Regions from separate parts of the Homo sapiens genome. Here region 2 is linked to region 1. The links come from fine-mapping of genetic effects on gene expression. A gene starts in region 1. The other region holds a variant in brackets. All regions are shown on one strand. Distances are between the middles of the regions.

Region 1 (11,692 bases):
AGAGAGGGGTCTTGCTATGTTGCCCAGGCTGGTTTCAAACTCATGGCCTCAAGGGATCCTCCTGCCTCAGCCTCCCAAAGCGCTGGGATTAAGCTGTGAGTCACTGTGCCTGGCTGCATTTTCTTAATCTTATGTTGTTTGCAAATGCAGCTCCAAGTCCCTTTGCATAGTGTCCACTCCAGCTCTTCCTAATGCTAGAAATTCTGAAGCTGTGAAAGTGCTCAGCCCCTCCAGTTTGCTTCCATTCTACCTCTAGAGTGATCTGTTTCAGAAATAAGAAAATCTATTTCAGAAAGAAGAGAAGGATCAAGTTGAGGCAGGCTTTGTGATCTTAGCCAAGAGTCTTTTTCTACTTAGAATGAGTTCCAGGGTGTGGATTCTCTAGGATGGGTGGACCTGCTTAAAGGGCTAGGTGTTGAAATCCCCACCCCGGAGATAAGACTAGGCCCAGCGGGTAAATATTTAACATCATCATACCCTTCCACCCACTGTCAGGATTCCTCAAGAAAGCTAATCTGCCTGGCCGCTAAGCCCTGCAGACCCCAGACTGCAACCTCTTCTGTGTCCCACATGATACTTTTCATTATAGCTCTACAAAGAAGGAAGAAGAGGGAAGGAAGATTGAGTGTGGAATACAGGCCATCTAATATTAGGCGTTGTCACCATATTTAATCCTCCCAAGAATTCCATTGTAGCTGAAGGAATTAATGTTAAGTTTCTTTCCAAAATCACATGGCTAGTAAGTGACAAAGCCAGGCTTCTTTCTCCAGACGCGGCGTGCTTTCCATGGACACGGGTGTTAGGACCGAGTGCTGTTCAGGGCACTGGGGGTAATCTATGTATTCTCACTTGGGAGATGCTGGTAGCCAATGGGTAACAGTCCAAATGTTACTCAGAATATCCAAAGAAGCATACTGCATGTCCTAGCTTTTCTGTGACAGCTGGACTGCTAGACCTGTAGTGTTACAGAACAGGAAGATCGCCAGCAGGGCAGCCCTGAGTCCTCCTGAGTCCTGGGCCCACCTCCTGGAGGCCTCCCTCCACCTGCAGGGCTAAAGCCTGTTGACTTCAGATCTTCCCATATGCAGCGGCGTGTGAAGAAAACAGGAGACACAGTCTCTGCTCTCTTAAGCTCTCGGAAGGCAGGGAACCCACAGTCACCTAAATGGGCAAGTTCACGTCCACACATCCACAAAGAAGTTCAAAAAATGGTGCTAACTGCGCCCAGACATTGCACTATGAAGCAAGAGGAGTAAGGAAGGCTTCTGGGAAGCTGTGACTGGGCAGAGGATTAAGAATAAAAGGTGGTGAGGGGAGGTGACTAGAGCAAGCAGGGGAGTTCTAAGTGGAGAACGAGGTCACTGATTTTTATCAAACAACTCAGGGCAGAGAAAAAAATGCACATCCCTTCTGCTGTGTGGGGCATCTTGAAAATCCCAAGAAATACAGCACAAAAGCCCATCCTGCCATTTTAATGAGTTGGTCTAAGACCCACCTTAGGAAAGCTGGTGTCCACTAAGCCTAACCTTCCTTCCCTCCAGAGGCCTGGTCATGGGTTCACACCACACAGGCACTGTGCAGGCACAGGCTGGGGCGCTTTACACACAGCAGCTAACTGAATCCTCCTCTTTAGTCCTAGCTTGTTTTATATTGCTTTCACTCCATGGCATCGTTGATAAATCCAGTCTCCTCTACTAGATGCTTCTAGAGTCCTCAAAGATGGGAAGCCTTCCCTTCTGTGTGGTCCCTAATCCAACAGTCTCTCTCAGGGTTCCGCACACATTCTAGGCCACCAGCCCCACAACAGTCCCCGACCCATCTCCCCTTCACTGCCCAGAGGGCTTATGACAGAAGAGCATTGTCCTTAGCAACCTCTACCTCCTGTTGCTTAGCAACTGCAGTTCCGAGTCCCCTACACAAAGGCTGAGAGGCCCCTTCCACACTGTGAGGCAGTAAAAGGGTTAATGGGCTCAGGGGCCTCCCTCAGGTCCCAACTCCCTCAGCCGGCTCTGGCCTGACCAAGAGCTCCAGACGGAGGTAGGGGTGTGAACAAAGGATAGGAGCAGACAGTAAGTCCCAGAGGCTACTGCTCACAGCCCCTGTAGCTCAAGCAACAGCACAGACAGAAGACCCACAGGTAGACAAAGTTGCTAACCATCCAGTGGCTTCAGGCCTGAGGGACCTCAAGGCAGGACACAAGCTGGAGAGAAGGAAGAGCTTCAAGTCTCCCTGGTGGAGTCCCAGGAAAAGCCCCTCCCTCTTCCACCTCCCCTTGCCTTGCCCTCAGTCAGGCAACATTATGAATCTGTCCAGCCTCAGCCCGGCAGCCCGAGACCCCTCCCAGGCCTGGGCAGGCGGAGGCAGGGAGGGAGGGCTGGTGGGCACAGCCGTTTTTTTCTCCACTGGTGCTAATTGGGGCCCGCTTTCATCCATTCCCACAGGGCTTGTGTAGACACATACACTCCCACCAGGCTGTTTGCCAATAACTGCCCCCAGTTTGAAAAGAAACTTCCCTTCTGCATCACCTGCCTGCACCTCCTCCCCTCTCTGCTCAGCCCGCCCTGTGGCAAGGCTCAGCCAATCCCGGGGTTTCCCTCAGGATTCAAACTAAAGAGGGAAAAGGTGGGGGTCTCCCCATCAACATCCTCCCAGGTGGCCTTTCCTGGGTCTCCCCTCTGAAGAGGAGGCAACAAGACTCTCTCTCGCCCCATAGCCCAGACCTGTCCTTAGGGCCTCCTGCAGACTGCCCTCTGAGACCTGGCACTAAACCGCTTAGATTAAGGCTCCATCCGGGATTAGGAGGAAGCAGAGCCATTGTAGCCATTCTAGGGAGCCAGCTGGGGTGCAGCAGAAGGCGCCCAGGGAGGCTACACACGATTTTAAGTCCCAACAGGTGCCACCTAAAGCAGCAACCCAGGCCAGCCCCATCCAGTCACTGACCTTTGGGGATCCTGGGCCCTCCCCAGCCACCCTCTCTGTACACCTGTGCTTCTCTACTCAGAAGCAGACTGAGTGTCCCTGGAAAAGCAGAGAGGTCACAGCCGCACCTACCCTGCTGCCCCATCAGCCCACTCCCTAGAAGACTTGAACCCCTGAACTAGCATTTAAGACGATGAGGAAGGGGGAGAGCGCAGAGGAGTGAGCAGATAGTAGAGCCAGGACCAAGGCAGGGCCAAGAGGGGAGACTACAGATCAGGATGAAGTCTGGGAGGTTTCATGATGAGATGTAGAAAAAGCAGTTACAGAATTAGAATGGATATTTGGAATAGGGCTGCAGGATCTCCTTTGGAACAGACCACGTGGAGTCCTAAATAGCACAGCTATAAGAGTGTGAGTGTGTGTGTGTGTGTGTGTGTGTGTAAATGAATGAATCTTTCAATGAATTAACACTGCTTGGGAGCACAGCCATGCTTATTAAGCAGAGTTAAGGCAGCAGAGCTGGAGATGAGATCAGAGCAGGGACAAAGCCGTTCATAGGAGGCCTTGTGCGACTCTACCCAGCCCACCTTTCTTGCTGATACCTCCCTACCTCCCACCTGAGGAGAACTCTTACCCACGTAATCAGGGTCAATTCGGGGAGAGTAGAGGCCGAACTGGATGAAGATGGGAAGCAGGAATCCAAAGCGCAGCCACTCGATGACATGCAGGGGGGGCCGGCCGGCCGGGGGCAGCAGGTCACAGCCCAGCACCACACTCTCCCCAGCCCGGCCCACCACCGATACCACCTCAGGCTTCCCTCGACCTGCATGATGGGTGGCATGAGGGCACAACGGGGGGCTAGGGTCAGTGCTGGGAGGGGGAGTGCCATCAGTATCTCTGTAGGCACCTTAGGACTTTGGGTGACTGGAGAAACCCCCAGTTCAGCTTCTCCAGAACCAGCCCTATTCCTCCCCTGCCCTCACATGCTCAAAGAGGAACCCTTGAGGAACACCCCCATACCCACCCCAAGGCTAACAGGGCATTCTTGAGCCCAAGAGCTCAGCTTACCGTCAGCCCCCTGGCTGATGACCAGGCTGAGGACGGCCAGGCCGAGGCACCACACCATAGCCCAGCTGGCCTGCTCACCCAGCCCCTCCTATCCACAGGAGCCCAGATGGAGGGGCCAAGGGATGTCCTTCTGATCAGCTCAGGGAACAGGTTTCAGCTCTCACTCTTCTGTACAGTGAGGGCTTGGCTCATGTAACACCCGAGGAAGCTGCTCTCCGGAGAACCACCAGATCTAAATGAAAAGTACAAGGCAACATGCAGAGTTGGCCAATACTGGAGCCCAGAAGAAACCCCACCATTAGAGAAAGGCACTGGGAAGAGAAAGGAGGGAGGAGTGTAGTTAAGTGAGGGGTAGGGGGAAGGGGGGGATCTTGAAGCCCTGGGGAGTAAGAGCAGGGGTAGGAGTACTGGGAGAATGGTGAGTGCTGAATGCAGATACTAGAAAGGTGAGGAAATGGGGGAGGCTGGGAGAGTTGGGAAGGTCTTAGGAAATGTGGAAGGATTCTGGGGATGCCTGCATTCTGAGGGTCTTGAAAAACTAAGCCAGAAGAGAACTGGGGTTCCTCATATGCTTGGAAAAATATTTTTGAAGGAAGTATGGTAGATCAAGACTCTCATGGCCTAGGCTGCTCTCGCTTCTTTCCTTACTCTTGATGCTCACAAGGTATAGCAGCAAGATGGAACCAGTGCTGTCGCCTTCACCCCTCTGTGACAAATAAGGGCCCTGAGGATATCTGCTCAGGGGCAGAGAGCCAGTCAAGGGCAAATCCAGGGCGCTTAAGCCTCAGAAAGTGGTCCCCAGGACACCCCGATACAATCCCTTGTCCCATTTCCCCAGCCTCTATGAAAAACTCTGGAAGCTGAGGACCCGAGGCCTTTCTCCATTCAGTCTCCCTACACTGCTTTGGCAGTGAGTGAGTCAGGCACTTGGGAGAGGAGGAGCTGCCTCCCCCACCTGCCAGTATGGGGGATCCAGGCAGCATCCTCCAGGTCTGGACAGGTCCCGGGGCTGGCAGCTGGCGCCACTTCCTCACGATACTGCCAAGCAGCCCTCCCCCTGCCAGGCACCACCACCCAAGGACCTCACCCAAATCCCTCCCACTCACTCCCCTCCAATATCTTCGGGGTGCCAGGGTTTGTCAAGCTCTTTCTTCCCCAACCCCAGAGGCATGGTCCAAAAAAAAGCCTGTGAGTCCCTGAAGTGTACAAAATTAACCCTGGGGCATGGAGGGTAGGAGCTTCTGACAGCCCCACAGATCCTAGGGCAGTCTCAGAGAGCCAGAGGGTCCATGCCAGGGCCTGGCACTGCCAAGTGGACTCTGCTCTGAGTCCTCCAACCCACTCTTGGCCGCAAAGTTCAGGACAGACTATAAAACATCCTCCACAGAGTCTGATCCTTGCCTCTACTTAATGATCCTGTATGTCTAACTTCTGGCAATTCACTAGCAACCAAGCCCCCTGTTTCCCACTGCCTCCAGGCAGCTCTCCCACACTTCCCTGAAAAACCTTTTTCCAAGTATATAGGAACCCCCTAGTTCTCTCCTGGTTGTTTTCCGAGACTCTGAGTAACTAGGCATCCCTAGAATTCCTCCCAGTCTCTTAATATCTTTCCAACTCCCCCGGCCTCCACTATTTCCTCACCCTTCTAGTCTCCCCACACACCACTCCCTCGTCCTCCCATTACTCCCTTCCCAGTTATCGCTACTACGCACAATCCCCCCACAATTCCAGCTTCTCGCACCTGATCTCCAATTGCAGCAGGTCTCCTGCACTATAAAGAACTCCCTTCTGGTCTCCCCACCCCCCAGCCACTTCTCCCCATCCTCTCCTCCCGATAATTCCCCTCCCTGGGATTCTCCTGCATCAGCCCACAATACAATTCTGATACCCCACCCCCAACAATTCCTTTCTCCCTCGCATTCTCTGGTCCCCTGGAACTCCTCCTTTCTCTTAGAACCCACCAAGAACTCCCCCACATTGCCTCCAGAACTCCTGCAGTTCTCCGGGAACTCCCACCCACCCGCCAAGAATTCCACTTCACTCCCCAGAACTCCCCTAGTTCTACTCCTGCAACGAATTCCACTTCTCTCTAGAACTCCCCGCTTTCTCCTGTCCCCCATAACTCCGCACTACCAGCACCACCACTTCTATACCTCCAGTACGCCCCCTCCCTCACCTGCTCCGCACCGCTCGGCTCCACTCTCGCCGCTACACAATAGGGGGCGGACCCGCCTCCCCGCCTCGGATGCCCCGAGCGCCTCCCGTCGCCCTGGAGACCGCCAATCCCCCTCCCGCGGCGGCCAATTGGAGCCGCCAGAGGCACGGCGAGGCGGGCGGGACCCCTGAGCGGCCTGGGAGTTGTAGTTTCAGGAGGGAAGAGCTCGGCTGCACGTGGGCTCAGGTCGCCCCCTCGTGGACCTCTGCACAGCCAAGCGTGGAAAGGCCGGTGGGCCGCTTCCCGCCGCCAGCAAGAGGGGCAGCAGGGTCCGGCTCGCGCTCCAGGGCTGCGGGAGCTGGCCCCTTGCCAGGCTACTGGTACGCCGTCCTTCTTTCGGAACCTACGGGCGACCCTCTCCGCTCCCCGAACGGGCGCGCCACAGAGGCGGCAGCGAGGGTTGAAATCTGAGCCTGGGGGTAGGAGAACCAGGCGGGGAGCATGACTCCCCGCCCTCCTCCCAGGGGATCCACCCAGGTCCCGGGCTCATCCGATCTCCTCCCCCATCCCCATTTCTACCTCCACCCATTGCTTCTCTAGCAGGACTGGAAATACCTGTCTGCATTGGCGAGCTCCCAAATCTTGCCCAGGCGCCTCCCACCGTGTGCAGCTGAGGAAGGCTGTGCTCTGAGCGTGGGGTTGCCAAGTCAGCTCCCAAGGCAGCTCTGGCACCAACGACCCAGAGAAACAGGCCCAGAGGGGAGAAACGACAGATATCCTGACACGGGAGATTGAAAGGGAGGAATGAAATACAAGATCACTTACTGGACCCATGCAGGGTGCCAGACCCTGGACTAGATGCTTTATAACTCTTGTGTAACCTTCACAGAAACCCTGCGAAGTAAGTAGAGCTCCCTTTGACTAATGAGAAAACTGAGGCTCAGGGAGATGAAGTAACTTGGCCCAAGCTTTCCCAACTAGGTTATGGCAGAGCTGGATTGAGACCCAACCCAAACTTCATCAAACCTACTCCCTTGGAGGCTTCGCCCTCAGACACAAAGATATCTTGCATATCTTGCCCCTCAGAGATTCCACCTCCTCAGCCTGGTGATGCTGTAGGGATGCTGGGTCGGCTTAAGCAACATTGCCTGTCCAGGTCCTTCCCATTCAGTTGGCTCCCTTGGAAGCCTTCCATGAAAGCAACGTGCTGATCTCATCCCAATCCGAAGTACTAAGACTCAAACTGAGTGCACCAGGCATCAGACTCACAGAATCACTGCTGCAGCATCATGAGAGAACCTCCAGGATGGGCCTAAGCACTACTTGGCCCCAGAATCCCTGGCACATCATTTCTCCATGTAGTCATCCAAGCCCCTATCTCATTACATCCTGGGCCAGGAAGCTCAGCACTACTGTTGTACCCATTCCATCCTTAGTAAGCTCTGCCTGCTGGACAGTTCTTCCAGGTGTAAAGGTTTTAGTGCTTTTGGGTGACTGAGATGGAAGGGAAGAGGCAGGAGCAGTGGGCCAGTCTCTCCCACCATCCCTCCTGCAAATAGTCCCAAAGTAGCAGCTTTTCAACAATGCATTTCAACATAATACCCTGATCTATTGATAAGACTATAATGGAAACATGTTAATGAATGCAGCATGGAAGCAAGGCTAGAAGAAATGGTAAAAGAGTGAAGCGGGTTTTTTGTTTGTTTGTTTTTTTGTTTTGACAGAGTCTCACTCTATCGCCCAGGCTGGAGTGCAGTGGTGCAATCTCGGCTCACTGCAACCTCCACCTCCCGGGTTCAAGCGATTCTCCTGCTTCAGCCTCCCAAGCAGCTGTGATTACAGGCGGCCACCACCATGCCTGGCTAATTTTTGTATTTTTAGTAGAGATGGGGTTTCACCATCTTGACCAGGCTGGTCTTGAACTCCTGACCTCATGATCCACCCACCTCGGCCTCCCAAAATGCTGGGATTACAGGTGTGAGCCACTGCCCCCGGCCGAGCCAAGTGTTTTTTAGTCTTTGGATCTTTACCAATCATTGGGAAGGATCTCCCTCCCCGCTGTTAGAATTGGCCACACCTTTGATCTAAACTGCTGTCTCCAGTGGTTTCTTGAGGATAAACTAATCTCATTTAGACATTAAAATAACTTTCTGTTAAATGACATTTAAAATGGTTTTCAATTTTTAAAAGTTTATGATATGGCCTTTTTTTTCTGGAAACTTATTTTGTGACTTTTATTGTTATTGCCATTTTTTGTCTGATTTATATGTATATTGGAGATTTTTTGTTAAGAAAAGGAACCTAGCCCTATAACTTGTTCCCTCACTGTGCCAGGAGTGAAAGCTGATTTAAAAAATAGTCCCTGAGGTTCAAAACAAAAGACTTTCCTCTAGGTTGTCCTTGATTCATAGTCATTACTCTCTGGGAAAGCTTATTCAACCAACGAGGATTCCACCTAACCTAAGTATCAGGCAGCCCCCATATTTTCAAATTGCTGACAAGGATATCAGAAAATATTCTCTCTCTCCCCCTCCTCCTCCTCCTCCTCTTCTTCCTCCTTCTTCTCCTTCTCCTGCTTTCTTCTTTCCTCTTTCCTCCTCCTCCTCCTTCTCCTCCTCCTCCTCTGCTGCTGCTTTTCCTCCTCCTCCTCCTCCTCCTCCTCCTCCTTCTCCTTCTTCTTCTTTTCTCTCTCTGTCTCTCTCTCTGTCTCTCAGAGCTGGGGTATTCTCCTCCTCTTGCCTTTGAACATCAAAACTCCAGGCTCTCCAGACTTGGGACTGTGAGTTATACCATTGGCCTCCCTGGTTGTGAGGCTTTTGGAGTTGGACTGAGCCACACTTTTGCCATCCCAGGGCCTTCTTTGTGCATGTTGTAGGACTTGGCCTCCACCATCATGTAAGCCAATTCCCCTAATAAATCCCATCTCATATTTCTATATCTGTATCTATCTATCTTATTGGTTCTGTCTTCCTGGTGTATACCTAATATTTCAGCAGGCCTTGGGAAGAAAGGACCTGAGCTGCTCCATAGCCCTGCACAAAGAAGATGGTGTGACCTCAGAGATGTCTGCTTGGCATCGTTAAGCACAGGTGTTCCTAATCAGCAAAGTTTCTCATTGTCTATAGATAAGCAGAGAATTACTTGATATCAAATGAACCCTGAAAGGTGGAACACATGGGCTTTTAGTAGTGACCACATTTGATGTGTTAACATTGCTTGTACCAATTAAGCACCACATAACTATCCCATATTCTAGAATAGAAAGGGTGGCTTTAATAATCGATAATAGGGATGTTGTTAATCAGGCATATATTAAGTTATATCTGAGTTAAAAAAGAAAAGAAAAGATTGTCATCCAGGGACTCTGTTGACCACATGCCTGTAAGCAGCAGTCTTATTACCAGATCCGTAAAGAAGTGCGGTTTCTCATATATTGTCATTTAACTTTTTGTGTGCCTATCTTCTATCCCAATGAAACACTTAGCCCCACAAGGGTGTGGATATTGTCCTGTTTGTCTTTGAATTCCTGCTTCAGAAAGGCCCTGCTTACTTTTCCAGCCTGGTTTCTCACTTATCCCTTTATCGCAGTGTGCATGACTTTGCAGGCCTTAGAACTACTGTGCTCTTTCACATACCAGTGTCTTAGCACTTAGCTTCTGTCTCGATAGAATGCCCTTTTCTCCTTTCCAGACTCACTGCTGGCCACAGGTCAAATTTCTGTTGATCTGTTCCCTTCAGGACACATTCCGTGACTTTTCCCACCACGCCCTCACCTTCACCCCAGCCCTTTTCCTACCTTGTTATTGTATCTTTACACACTCCACAAAACATTCCTTGAAGGCAGAGGTGTCTCTTCTGCCTCCCCAGTGCTTGCCAAGTTCCTGGCATATTGCAGAGGTAGCGGCTTGTGCCTCTCTGAGTTTATATTCAACTTTCTTTAAGATCTCATCCTTCCTCTTCCAGAAGCTCGGCCTCTTTTGAGGCCTCAACCCTTCTCTGCTCAGAGATCGGCTGTAAGAAGAAGGAACTTTGCCAACTTCCAGGGAAATCCCTGGGCCTATCATACATTCATTCCTTTATTTATTCATCCTTTTGTTTACTTTCTATGAATTCAATCCTGCAATAACATGAGAAATGAGCTGCCTCTTTATGTGCAAGATGGACTCAAGGTGGCCTTTCCAGTCAGTCCCCATCCCTGCAGTGGTGCCTCCTAGGAAAGATATAAAAGGAATCAAAGGGATTGGGGGCTGCTGGCCTTTTTTGGAAGCAAGACTGCTCAGGGCCTAAGGGAAGCCCAGAGAACCAGCCTCAAGAAGGGACTGCCTTCCAGAGGGACAAGGGTTCAGGCCCTCAGAAAGTAGAGGGGACCAGTTTACCAGCACTAGGAGCTCTTGGGGCTGGTTTCCCAACCTTACTACCTCCTTCCCAAGCCCCAAGGGGCTCCATCTCCTGCACAAATACCTAGGGAGACCCCTACTCTTGGCTTCCAGCCCTGCCCCACGCCGCTCTCAAGACTCTCCTCCTGGGTGGTCCTGTGCCAGCCCATGTGTTCTACTTTCCTAAAAGGAAGGTATCCTTGGTCTCATTGGTTGCCCAGTTGAATGCATTCCACTGACCCCTGCACATACTTCTTGTTCCTTTTTTAGAAGATACTTTGGAGATCAGCATCCTCCCCCTCAAAAACAAAGAGGAAGAAGAGACCCACAGCAATGTTAGGCATGCCTCCTGCCATGCGGCCCTCTCCCCACCCTTCAGACACCTCTTCTGAAACTCCCCAGGGCCCCCAACCCACCCTGTCTCTGTGGCACCAAGTCGCTTGCCTAACTGTGTCTCTGTAGGAGCTCCAAGCTGCCTCTCTGCCTGCTTCTCTCTTCCAGTGTGCACTTCTTGGAGAAAGAGGCTGTGGCTCAATGGAAGTTTGCTGAACACAGGGTCACAGGCCAGAGGCGAGTAGCAGATCAAAGCCCAGAGCTCCAAAATGTCACCTAGGCTCCCAGCCATACATCACAGCCTTCACCACTTCCTGCAATTCACCCACTGCGTACACCTGTCCTGTCAATTGGGTGTTTTCTAATTCTCTCCCCAGTCCTCGCTTCCCCCTAACCCCCTGCCCCATGGCAACTGCATAAGTAACATCCACAAGATCTGATTTGGAGGGAATACTAGAGACTTGGGCAGGGACACATTAGGCCTGGGAGGCTGATCATTGGTCTAGGGAAAGAGCAAGAACATAAACTTAAGGGCCTTTGCCAGGGAGTTGGGGGTGGGCATTAACCCAGGACAAGACTCCAAAGAGAAGGCCTAAGACATGGAAATCTATAGGCAGGGACACAGGCAGGACAGTAATACTAATCACAAGCAGAAGTCAAGGCTCCACGATCTCGGCTAATAATCCAGCATCCCTATGGGGTAGACGCCAGAGGCCCAGAGCAACTGGCATCAGGGAGATGACGGAGAGGTTGCGAGCTCAACTCAGACCCAGGGTAGGTCTGAATGAGGTCCTTCCTACCTCCCTATTTAGGAGAGCTTCTAGACTAGTCTGGGATGGAT
Region 2 (11,692 bases), 35 kb after region 1:
AGTGACAGCTCCAGGTCCGGACGTGTGAGAATCCAGGGATTGAAGGAGCCTGATCTGGCTCGCTCCTACCTTCTTCCTTAAAGGCTCCCAGAGGTCCAGACTCCATCGATGCCCCACACCAATACCGATCCCCAGCAGGGGCTTCAGTTTCCACCCCAGCCATGCAAAGGCCCCGTCCTGTCTGTTCTCATCCTAAACTTACGTTCTCTGTCCTGATTGGGCAGGACAAGGGTCTCTCCCCAGGTATGGAATCTCCCATAGGTCAGGTAGCCTCAAGAGCCAACAGCCATGGCTGGGAGTCAAGCCTGAGGATCATGATGAAGGATGGCAGAAATGGGGCTCATGGAAGAGTTCCCTTCTCATTCCCATTATGAGCAAGAAGAACACAGGTGTAATCAGCCTCTTCCTGGACCATAGGCACCTTCCATCACTCCTGGAACTTATGAGGATCACAAGGTCCCTGAGCATAGGCCCGGGTGTTCAAACCTGGTTTCTCTATTGCCACCAACCACAGAGCACTTGGGTTTCCAAGTGTGGTCTGAACTCCTTCCCCAAGCAGTAACATAGATAACTCCCTGGGAGTCTCAGTACTCATATGTACGTCAGAGATCTCATCTCTTTAACAAAGGTACTGATTCAATGGAAGGCAGAGAAGCAGGATTTATTCATTATTCATTCATTGACTTATTCATTCATCAATCATTTATTGAGTACCTCTACATGCCAGGCCCTCGGATATATGCTAGTTTATAGTGTAGAAAGCGAAAAAAGAGATAAAGTGTGACAGAGGGGGCACAGAGAGGAACTGCTTAGTTCTACCTGGGGAGGAGACCCAAAGAGGTGAGATTGCTTTGACCTCATCTTGCAAGATAAGTATTCAGTATAAGGGAGATGTAGGGAGAGGCTGTTTCAAGATGTAGCCACATGAGCAAGGACACAGCCAGGAGTAGTCTGGGAACTGGTGGAGTGTGGCATGGCTGGAGAGGCAGGCTGTGAAGAGGATGTGCTAAGAAGTAAGCCTGGGGAGGCAGTAATCAGACAAACTCAAACTACACCAGAGCAGTGGGAAAGGAAAGGAGGGATTTGAAATTGGGAGTAATTGAATCAAACTTGCATTCGAGATCTGATGGCTGCCAAGTAAAGAATGATCAGAACAGGGTGAGAAAAAGACTGAGCCTATTGCAATTGCCTGGGCAAGAGAGAGAGGTGTCAGCTGAAACAATGGCAGTGAGGTGAAAAGGAGGGCGTAGATCAGAGTGACACTAAGGAGGCAGAATCTATAAGACTTGATGATACAGACTTGAAGATTTGATGAGGGTGAGGGGCAAAAGAGAGGGAGGAATTCAGGATAATAGGAAATTGAGGGCAAGACGCTGATCTGTAGGAAAATGTAAGTTAAAATGTGTCCATCTTCAGATGAGATGTTCTTGGCATGGCCAGGTGGAGATATCCCTCAGTTAAAGTCTATATGTAACTTCAGGATCTGTTCTGGGCTGGAGATAGAGACTTGGGAGTCATTTACATTTGGTGGTGCTTGAAGCCAGCTGTGTGGATGGAGCACTCCAGAACTCAAGGAAGGAGTATAGGTTGTAGTGTGTGTGTGTGTGTGTGTGTGTGTGTGTGTGTGTAAGTTGTTTTTAACCTGTTGCTTTTTATATATAAAGAATATCTATATAATATATATGGCTTAAAATAGCACAAGGGCAAAAACAACTAAGATGGTTATTAATAAGGAATTTGTTAAATAAATTATGGTCCAGCCATATAATGAAATATAATGTAGCCATGAGAAAGAACAAGGTAGATCCATAAATACCTGTATGGAATGAGCCCAAGATAAAGTGTTAGTGAAAAACACTAAAAGCAACATGTGAAGCCATGTGTACAGTGCACCTCCATTTGTATATAAAAAGAAACATGCATACATATTCACACACATATGTATGCTTGCATATGCATATAAAATGTTTAGAATGTAAGGGAAGACTGGGTAACCAACTCATGGGCTAGGGTGAGGGAGAAACAATTTTCACAATGTGCTTCTTTGTTCTTTTTTAAAAAATTTAATGCATTTACTATATTCACATATATGTTTCAATTAAAAAGCTAAATAAAATAAAATATTCCAATCTTCTTTATTTCCCCATAGAGCTTTCAATAAACCTCTCTTTCTTGAAGTTACCTGAGAATGGATCCATTCCCTGCAACTGAAGATTCTAAGGAACTGGGTTTCTCAGTATACAATGGGAATGGTTGGGAGGAGGTAAAGAGTAGAAGACAGTATCAAGAATCCAGAGCCCAGCACCTGTAGTCCTAACTATTCAGATTCCTTGAGCCCAGGAGTTTGAGTCCAGCCTGGACAACATATTGAGACCCCCATCTCTCTAAAAAAAAAGAGAAAGAAAGAAGGAAAGAAAAAAAGAAAGAAAGAAAGAAAGAAAGAAAGAAAGAAAGAAAGAAAGAAAGAGAAAGAAAGAAGGAAAGAAGGAAAGAAGGAAAGAAAGAAAGAAAGAGAAAGAAAGAAAAGAAGATTGTAGCTAGGGGGAGAGTAGGTGAAAAGATGAACAACATGACCGGGAAGATTTCCTAATCTCACCACAGCCTGGCTCTACCTTAAGGTAGGTAGATGGACAAGTATAGCTACCTGGGTCACAGATGCTAAGATGACATCCAGACAGGTCAGAAATTAAGAAGAAAGGCAGATGAGGAAGGATAAACCCTATCTTATAAGACAAATTCCTGGCACTCATTTCTTTTTTAAGTTTCCTTTTTGCTTTCCCTAGTCCTGCATTTTTGTTGAAGGCAGAAGATTAGAGAGAGACAAAGAATGGCTGAGTTGATATCCTTGTAGTTACAGTCTGAGTTCCCAGGTAGTACTGGAAGACGTGAGGTTAGCAGATGTAGTCTTTACTTCAGGAGAAAAAGAAGAGTTTTCTGCTAGAAATTGGTTCTAGTCTCTTTTCTACCCTCCTCCCATGCCATCTCCCCAGTTATAGAAAAGATTAGTCATGTCCCTGCAGGGTTAGCTCCCTATAGGGCCAGTGACAGCATCCTTCAGCTACTGCTGGTAGGGCTAGGACTTCACTCAGTAGAGAAGCCTGGTGTAAATGGAAGAAAATGACCAAAGAAAAGCGGAACGTGACCAGGCATAGATGTTTGCCACCAGGAACTGGGGAGGGAAAGGACCCTGAGGCTTTCTCGCCTAGACCCAGACCACAGCCCTGTGCAGACAGGCACAGAAGCCTGAGCTCAGTAAGATGGAGCCAGCCATCTACACCTCAGCCAGACAGCTGTCCCCTCAGACAGACATTTCCAAACAGCCCAGGTGGTCAGAATGGGACATGAACATAGGCGTACTCATGGAGACATGCAGGAACATGAGATCAAAGGCTCGCCAAACTTTCCATCACAGGGACCTGCCATGGGGAAAAGGGAGGGGGTGAGATTAGATAATAAGGACCTCCTGACAGAAAGAGTGGTTAGAAGTGGGACTGGTGCATACAGGAGGATCTGTGGCCTTTCTTCCTCCCTCTTCCTACACAGATTTGAAAACTGCCAGCCCCCACCACTGCCCCACCCCACCAGGTCATAGTTCCTATTAAGTTCCATAGGAACATTTCTGCACTGCATCCTGGCCATCCTGGCTTCAGGGTCTCCACAGAGTGAGCCCATGTCATACCCCTCCCCACTTCAGGAGGAACAAGACAAAAGGGCCAGGTGAGACCTCAGTGACAACCACCTTGTCCTCCAAGAAGAAGCAAGCAGGACAAGACTTAGGGGTGGGAGATGGGGGCAGGCGAGGGGAACTTCATAAAGGAGACCTTGACTTTGGGGTTGTTAGGAAAAAGGTGGCTTTAGACAGGACTCCAGATCTGACGAGGTGGGTCTCAGGCACATAGGAAGATTTCCTAATATCTCCAGAACCTGGCTCTACCTTAAGGTAGGTAGATGGACAAATGTAGACACCTGGGTCACAGATGCTAAGAGGGCATCCAGACAGGCCAGCAGCTAAGAAGGGAGACAGATGAGCATGCATAAACTGTATCTTATAAGACAGATTCCTGGCACTCTTTTCTTATTTAAATTGCCCTTTTGTTTTCCCTAGTCTTTAATAAAAGCTTGACTGAAGGTACCAAGGTGTGCTGAAGTGGAAGCAAAGTTCTCCAAAGTCCAGCATGGTAGACATCAGTGGTGGTAACCAAGGACAGACCCCAAGGCAAGGTGAACCTCAAAAATGGAACCTCAAGTCTATGCAGTCCAGCTGCCCTCCCCACCAGAAAGTCCTTGTTCCAGCCCAACATCAGTGCCTCTGAGTTTGTTTACTAGAAACAAAGGAAGAATTTCCTTGTAAAAATATAGACAGAGTAGTCCCTGGCTTTCTCCTCTTGCAGGAAGGATGGATTCTCCCATTCCATACCATCTTTCCCCCACACTGGCCCCAGAAATACTTAATTCAACTATGTGAAAATAAAGATTGTTTTTGGTTTGAGGGCATAGGGATCCATTTATCCTTATTCTTTATGAGGCACTAAATTAGCTTTGTATGTTATTAAATGTGTCTCGTCAATGCTGTTGGCATTGTTTCATTTTAACTTCTATTTGGTAATGTTCAATTTTCTGAATGTGTGGATCACTTAGCATGAGCAGAAAACCCTGCAAAAGTGGTGGAGGTAAGGAAAGGTTGTAATAATGGTTACAAAGCAGGAGCAGCATAAGGCTACCTAGGTGGTACGGTTTGAGTTGTTTTGGGAAAGCCCTTCTTAATCACCTCTCTCTAGGACACCACCCCAACACACATGAAATTCCGCTGATGTCTTTTTGGTTGCCACTATGTTCCCCAAGTTCTTTTAATATGCAAACACTGGTAGGAAAATAAGAAGAAATCACATCATATCTCTGTTTAGAAACTGGTCTAAGATGTTTATAAATGTTCAGAAAAAATGTAAATCTCCTTGGGTAAGCAGGCTTAGATGAAACTATGAGCTCATGTTGGCAAATGTGCAAGCTTTAGCATTTAAGCCAAGTGCTTTAAATCAATCTGAGCTTCAAAAGGCAATAGTTAAAAGTCAAGGTAC[G/A]GTAGACAAAAAAAATATTTTCTTGACTGGAAGAGATCTTCATGAGACTCTTTACCATGAATTACCTAGAGAAAATAACGTAAGGCAATCTTTTTTTTTTTTTTCACTTTAATTCAACTCAACAAAGATGTATTTAATTCTACTATATGTAAGTAAAACTGAAGACATAGAGTTGCATAAAACAGTTCTGTCCCCAGACAGTCTAGCCATGCAGGACAAAACACGTATGGAGACACAAAGCGAAGTGTCAGGTTGCTGTGAGAGTTTAAAGAAGGGAGATAGCCCATCCTGTTGGAGGTCTCACCAATAGCATTGAGAAGGGATTTGGAGGCAGCCATAAATTAATAAACTGTACATGAAGGAACTGGCTCAGAGATTGAAAATCACAGGACGTTTTAGGAAACTTTGGGTGGTGAGGTCTGGATGGAGCACAGAATCGGCGTGGGGAGTTAGAGGAAAATTAGGGTCGGGGAGAAGATTGGGATGCTCTGAGCAAAACCAAGGCAAAGGAAGTTTAAGGCCAATCAGCAACGTGTGTCTTCCATCCTTTTCCTTTTCTTCTGCTGTGGAGGGTTCATCCCTCTCCAGCCAACAGAACAATGATTCTGAACACACTCCCAAGAGGGACTTCTGGGCTGCAGGCACCTCCCCACGGTGGGCTGTGCACTTGGACCTGCTCCTGTCAGGGGGACTCGCCTTCTCATCTGGCTTGGTGCCCATCCTCCTGAGACCCCTCTTCCCAGCCTCTTCCCCTCTGCCACATCCCCCGACGCCCTCCACCAGCCTTGTACCTTTCGTTCCTTTACCTCATGGCTGAAAGTGACTGGTGGTAGAAAGACACCCAACCTCACTGCCCAAGTGCCCACCCACTTCCTTCACTGATGGGCAACAGAGATCCCTGAGGAGCAAGGGCTAAAGTGGGTTTAATTTCACCTCATGTCAGAGCTCAGCCCTATTTAATGCTTACTGTTCACTCTATTTTTTTTTTTCAGATGGAGTTTCAATCTTGTTGCCCAGGCTGGAGTGCAATGGTGCGATCTCAGTTCACCGCAACCTCCGCCTCCCAGGTTCAAGTGATTCTCCTGCCTCAGCCTCCTGAGTAGCTGGGATTACAGGCATGCGCCACCATGCCCGGCTAATTTTATATTGTTAGTAGAGATGGGGTTTCTCCATGTTGGTCAGGTTGGTCTCGAACTCCCGATCTCAGATGATCCACCCGCCTCAGCCTTCCAAAGTGCTGGGATTACAGGCGTAAGCCACCGTGCCCAGCCTTACTACTGTTCACTCTCTAATGCTTTCCCTGCTCTCTTCCATCACTCTCTGCATGTTGGCATCTCTTGGACCCACCTGACTTTCTTTGCGTCACACGCAGAAGCAGAACTCACAGGAAGGAGAAGCCTGCATACACTAAGGGACCAGGGCTCTTGATGTGTGAGAGGGCAGTGGAGGCAGCATATCTCTTACCTTCTGTGATGGGCTGAATTGTGGCCCCCAAAACTCCTATGCTGCAGCCCTGACCCCCGTATCTCGGAATGTGATTGTATTTGGAGACAGGGTATTTTAAAGAGTAATCAATTTAAAATAAGGCCATTAGGGTGGGCCCTAATCCATTCTGATTGGTGTCCTTATAAGAAAAGGAAACCAGGACACAGATGCACATAGAGGGAAGACTGTGCGGAGACACAAGGAGAAGACAGCCATCTACAAGCCAAGGAGGGAGGCCTCAGAAGAAACCAACCCTGCTGACCTTTGACTTTAGACTTCCAGCCTCCAGATATATGAGGAAATTAACTTCTGTTGTTTAAGCCACCTGGTCTGTGCCATGTGTTACAGCAGCCTGAGCTGACTCCTGCATCTGCCAAGCCTGTGATGTCCTCAAGAAAAGCGGAGGACAACTTCTGGCCCCAACCAAGAAAGGAGCAAGGGCAGCAACCTCACAAGCCAGAGGGGAAACAGCCTTCCCAGACCAGGGGGTGCTGGCAAACAAGGCAAGCTCCTCTTTTCCATCTGCTTTCCATTCTCCCGTGACTGGCCTTAGAGCAGACTGTGCTGCTGCAGGCATCTCTGTGCTGTCAGGGAGTGTGCTCAGGTCTCCCTTCAAGAGAACCTGGTGCAAGAAGCCTCCAGCCTCCTGCTGCTATATTTTGGTTGTGTTGGGTGTTCACACTGCCCCATGCTGCTCCCAGCCAATGACTGAGCACAGAGGGTGCCAGAAACAGGGCTAGAAACAGGCCACTGTGCCTGATGTGAGGCCTCGCTAAGAGGCGAGCTCTGTTCTGGGACACTAAGCCTGGCGGGGACATCCTGGAGCTGCACCACAGTTTGAGGATCATCCTACCTGATCCTCTTCCCAGCCTGCTCTCCTTTCCCAGGTGTCTGACCTGCACTGCAGTCTGAAGTCTCTCCTGACCACTCCTTCTGCCCGCTCTTCATCCTTCACAGGTGTGGTGTTTCCCACAATGCCTCTGCAGGTCTAATCTTGTCTTGGCCTCTGCTTCTCAACAAATCTGGCTGCCCCTAGTTGTCCTTCCTTCAATTCATCCTCCACACTGTTAGAGTCCTCCTCCTTTCTAAAGTCCAGATCTGATCTTGTCACGCTCTGCTTCCATTCTTTCCAAGATGTCTGTTTACTTACAAGATAAATTAGAAGCTTATGTCTCTTGAGACTCAGCCTGTGCTCAACTGTCCACTCTCTTATTCCCTACCCAAGGCCCCATCTTGACAGCCACATGGAACTATCTACACTCTAGTCTAAACGTCAATGCCGCTTCACATCAAGGCCTGTGGACATATAACGCCTCCTTTTTGGAACATCTTTCTCCATTCTCATCACCCCTTCCTGCCGCACACTCACTCACTCATACACACACACTTCTCCCAGTGATCTTTAAATTCCTATTAAGATCCATGCAAATGTTCCCTTCTCGATAGAGGTTTCCTGGACACACCCAAGCAGAGGAAATCATGCCTCTCTTTGTGCTATTTTTAGCACTTACTAATATCTCTTATGACATTTATCAAACTGTCCCACAATTCTTTGTCTTTTAGGGAAGCCTTTAGGGTAGGCATAAAGTCATTTCTGTATCTCCAACACTAGCATAGTACATCGTGTAATGTTAAGTATGTCTATATGGGTACATATGCATACACACACATGTGTGTAGGAAACATAACGACATGGCTGGGCGCGGTGGCTCACGCCTGTAATCCCAGCACTCTGGGAGGCTGAGGTGGGAGGATCACGAGGTCAAGAGATGGAGACCATCCTGGACAACATGGTGAAACCCCGTTTCTACTAAAAATACAAAACTTAGCTGGGTGTGGTGGCACGTGCCTGTAGTCCCAACTACTTGGGAGGCTGAGGCAGGAGAATCGCTTGAACCCGGGAGGCAGAGGTTGCAGTGAGCTGAGATTGCACCACTGTACTCCAGCCTGGTGACAGAGTGAGACTCCGTCTCAAAAAAATAAAAAAAGAAAAAAAGAAACATATCAACATTAGAGTTTCTAGCTTATATCCCAATATCTTGGCCATTCATTAGAACCCTGGTTAGGCTCCTCTCTTATCAACTTACCCTCATGACCAGCTTCTGCCTCCTGTTCCCATCAGAGGAGGTTTAAGGCCAATTAGCAACATGTGTCTTTCATCCTTTTCTTTTCTTCTACTGTGGAGGTTCATCACAGCACTTCTATCAGTTCACCAGATGAAAGAGGCATCCATCTGTGCCTCTTCATCTGTTGGTTGTAATGCAGCACATATGATAAGTGGGTATTGAGTGGACCTGGACTGGAGTCACAATCACTGATTATGTGCTGGAAGTCAGAGGGGGACAGGGAAAGTCCCCCTTTCCTAGGAAAAGGGTCCTCAAGTTGCCAAGAAAAGCAAGAGATCAAATTCCCCCGAGGAGTGGATTTCTGACCACTCCTTGGTTTGTTTTTTGTTTTTGTTTTGTTTTGTTTGTTTTTTGCTTGAGTTAATTTAAGTTAGTTTCTATTACTTGCAACTAAGAAGTTTTAATGAATTCACTTGAAATACTATTGTTAGGAAGGAAACAACTTGCTTGAGAGGTCAAGCTTAGGCTGAAAGTCAACATTGGCCAAGGCACTTAGAGAGCAATTAATCCTCGTGGCAAGGCAGGGATGGGGTGGAGGGGATAGATGATTCCTAAGGTCCTTTCTAAGAGGATAAGAGTGCTTCCCCTGGTCAGTGGTTCTGGCTAGTCTCCTCCCTCCCTTCAAAATGCGAAGCAAAAGGCAGGGAGAAGGTCTCCTTGCAGATCTTCAGCTCTCTCAGGGAAAGAGACCCACGTCACTCCCAGCAGAGTCCTGCATGGCAGCAAGGGGCCAGGGCGGAAGAAGAACAAAAGACACCTGGAGAAGAAAGGCAGTGCCTTTCCCTGCAGCAGCCAGGGCTGCAGATATGATGGAGCAGGGGAGATGGTCTCTTCTAGAGCAGCATGAGCCGAGTTACACAGATGATGTAAGGAAGAAGTAGAGAAACTGCAGTCTCAGCTCAGAGTTTTCCTTACATGCTTGTGAAAATAAAGTCACCCTCTGTTGCAGGCTGAATAATGGCCCCCCAGGATGTCCACATTCTAATCCCTGGAACCTGTCCATGTTTTATTATATGGCAAAAGAGACTTTGTAGATGTGATTAAATTAAGGCTCTTGAGATTGGGAGATTATCCTGGATTATCAGAGTAGGCTTGATGTAATCACAAGAGTCCTTCTAAGAGAAAAGCAGGATGCAGCCCCCTGATGACAGAAGCAGAGAGGAAAGCAGAGTTGGAGACAGAAGACGCTATGCTATTGGCTTCCTAAAGACAGAGGAAAGGGCCACAAACCAAAGAATACACTTGTATTCTTCAGTAAATAGCAGCTGCCTTGGAGTGTTGCTTGATTCAATACATGTAATAGTAATCGTTCAATAAATGCTTGCTATTATACCCTTGGATGTCTTAGAGCTGCACTGTCCAATATGGTAGCCACAAGCCACATGTGACCATTCGACACAGGTGTGGATTTTCCGAATTGAGGTATGCTGTATGTGTAAAATAACACACCAAAATTCAGATACTGAGTACAAAACAAAGAATGTAAAATAGCTCAGTAATCTTAATATTAATTATTTGTTGAAATAACATTTTTAACACATCCAATTAAATAAAATATATTAAAATTAAATTTCACCTTTTTTTAGTGTAGCTACTAGAAACTTTAAAATTCTATATGTTGCTCACATTATATTTCTTTCAGACAGTGCTCTTTTGAGTCTCTGACCCGTTACTGAATAGAACAGTCTAGAAGCAAGCCCTACACATTTAGGGAAAGTGATGTCATACACTGACTTCTTTACAGTCACCCCGGTACTCATCTGCTCCTTGGGCTCTGAATTTCTACAATGCTGACTGAGGAACATCCCCGAGCACACCGTTAATTCTGGACTGACAGGTACAACTAAACCAAGAGAGGGAATTCAGTTGGCCTCAGAGACAACACAGGCCCCTGCACCAGGACAGAAGGAAGTAATCGCTCCTTTCTCTTTTAAATGTCCAATAAGTTCAGAGCACCACACCCCCACACAGTGCCTCAGTGGGCACCTGTACGTACACTCCATGAGGTGGCTATTCCTTTAATCCCTACCATCTGCTCCAAAATGTTTATCCAACAGTTTGCCATGGTGCTTGAACTTCTATCATTTGGGTGCCTCTTTGGAACAGGAAATTTAACTCTGTCTGGTGACCGTGCACAGGATTTATAGCTGTTGAGCCTCAGGAGCCATCAGGAACTGAGCTTGCTTTCTTTCCTTCTCTGGCCCTGCCCATTCACTTTCTGTCCAAGAGTGGCCCTAAACCAGAAGAAACCTCCCAACTCCCTTCTCCTGATAGTCCCTAAAGACCACACACATGGTCTGCTTCCTTATGAAAGGCTCCACTGCCAATCACTGCAGTGATACTGATGACAAAGGATGGCAACAATAACAAAGCTAGGCAAGCTTCAAGGGCTCCAGAATCTTACTCAGGTATCTCAGCCACGAGCCCGGGTCTAGGGGGACTGAAAGGGACTTTGGCCACTGCCATTATTCTTGAGAGTGGAGCTCTCCACCCAGTGCCTGAAAGTAAAGGAGATGCGGGTTCAGCCCATTCTCCACTTTGTAGGCGTGAAGATGCAGCAGAGGCAGAAGAACAGCTGCTGCCCTCAGGGACAAGTGTGCAATTTCTACCTAAGAGGCCTCTAGGCTGCGTGATGTGCATTTCACAGGTTCTCGGCCTCTACCTCTTGATGTTCCTCACAATGTCCACTAAAAACTGTGTTTCTAATTAAAAATAGAATTACCATAAGATCCAGCAATTTCATTATTGAGTATATACCCGAGAGAATTGAAATCAGGGACACAGACAGATATTTGTACACCCATGTTCATAGCAGCATTATTCAAAATAGCCAAAAGGTAGACACAACCCAGTGTCCTTCGACAGATGGATAAACAGGATGTGGTATATACATACAATTGAATATTATTCAGCCTTAAAAGGGAAGGAAATTCTGATAAATGCTTCAACACGGATGGACCTTGAGGACCTAATGCTAAGCAAAAAAGCCAGACACAAAAGGATAAA

Direction of the effects. Alleles are on the strand shown, and positions count from the first base shown. SD is a standard deviation of normalised expression in the study named.
For the expression in nucleus accumbens of the gene that starts at base 6,204 in region 1, allele A in region 2 goes with a higher level than allele G (moderate effect, 0.71 SD a copy in GTEx).

The links. PIP is the estimated chance that this variant, and not a neighbour inherited with it, causes the effect. A credible set is the group of variants that fine-mapping cannot tell apart.
Region 2: its variant is the best candidate, but not a certain one, in a credible set for the expression of IGSF9 in nucleus accumbens (GTEx, PIP 0.56).

What each region holds. Positions count from the first base shown.
Region 1 is chr1:159,939,410-159,951,101 of GRCh38, forward strand. IGSF9 (immunoglobulin superfamily member 9) reads right to left here and starts at 6,204. Exons shown (of 21, transcript NM_001135050.2): 1 at 6,164-6,204; 2 at 3,988-4,219; 3 at 3,554-3,742. The coding sequence starts at 4,045. LOC124904438 (a long non-coding RNA gene) reads left to right here and starts at 1,960. Exons shown (of 3, transcript XR_007066684.1): 1 at 1,960-2,037; 2 at 6,743-7,043. RefSeq lists a silencer at 6,190-6,484 and an enhancer at 6,327-6,827.
Region 2 is chr1:159,974,495-159,986,186 of GRCh38, forward strand. LINC01133 (long intergenic non-protein coding RNA 1133) reads left to right here. Exons shown (of 3, transcript NR_038849.1): 2 at 2,150-2,618; 3 at 4,106-4,592. It also overlaps a transcript of SLAMF9 not described here. Among named protein-coding and RNA genes, the nearest start is that of LINC01133, 19 kb to the left of the region's middle. The variant G/A (reference allele first, on the strand shown) is at 5,076.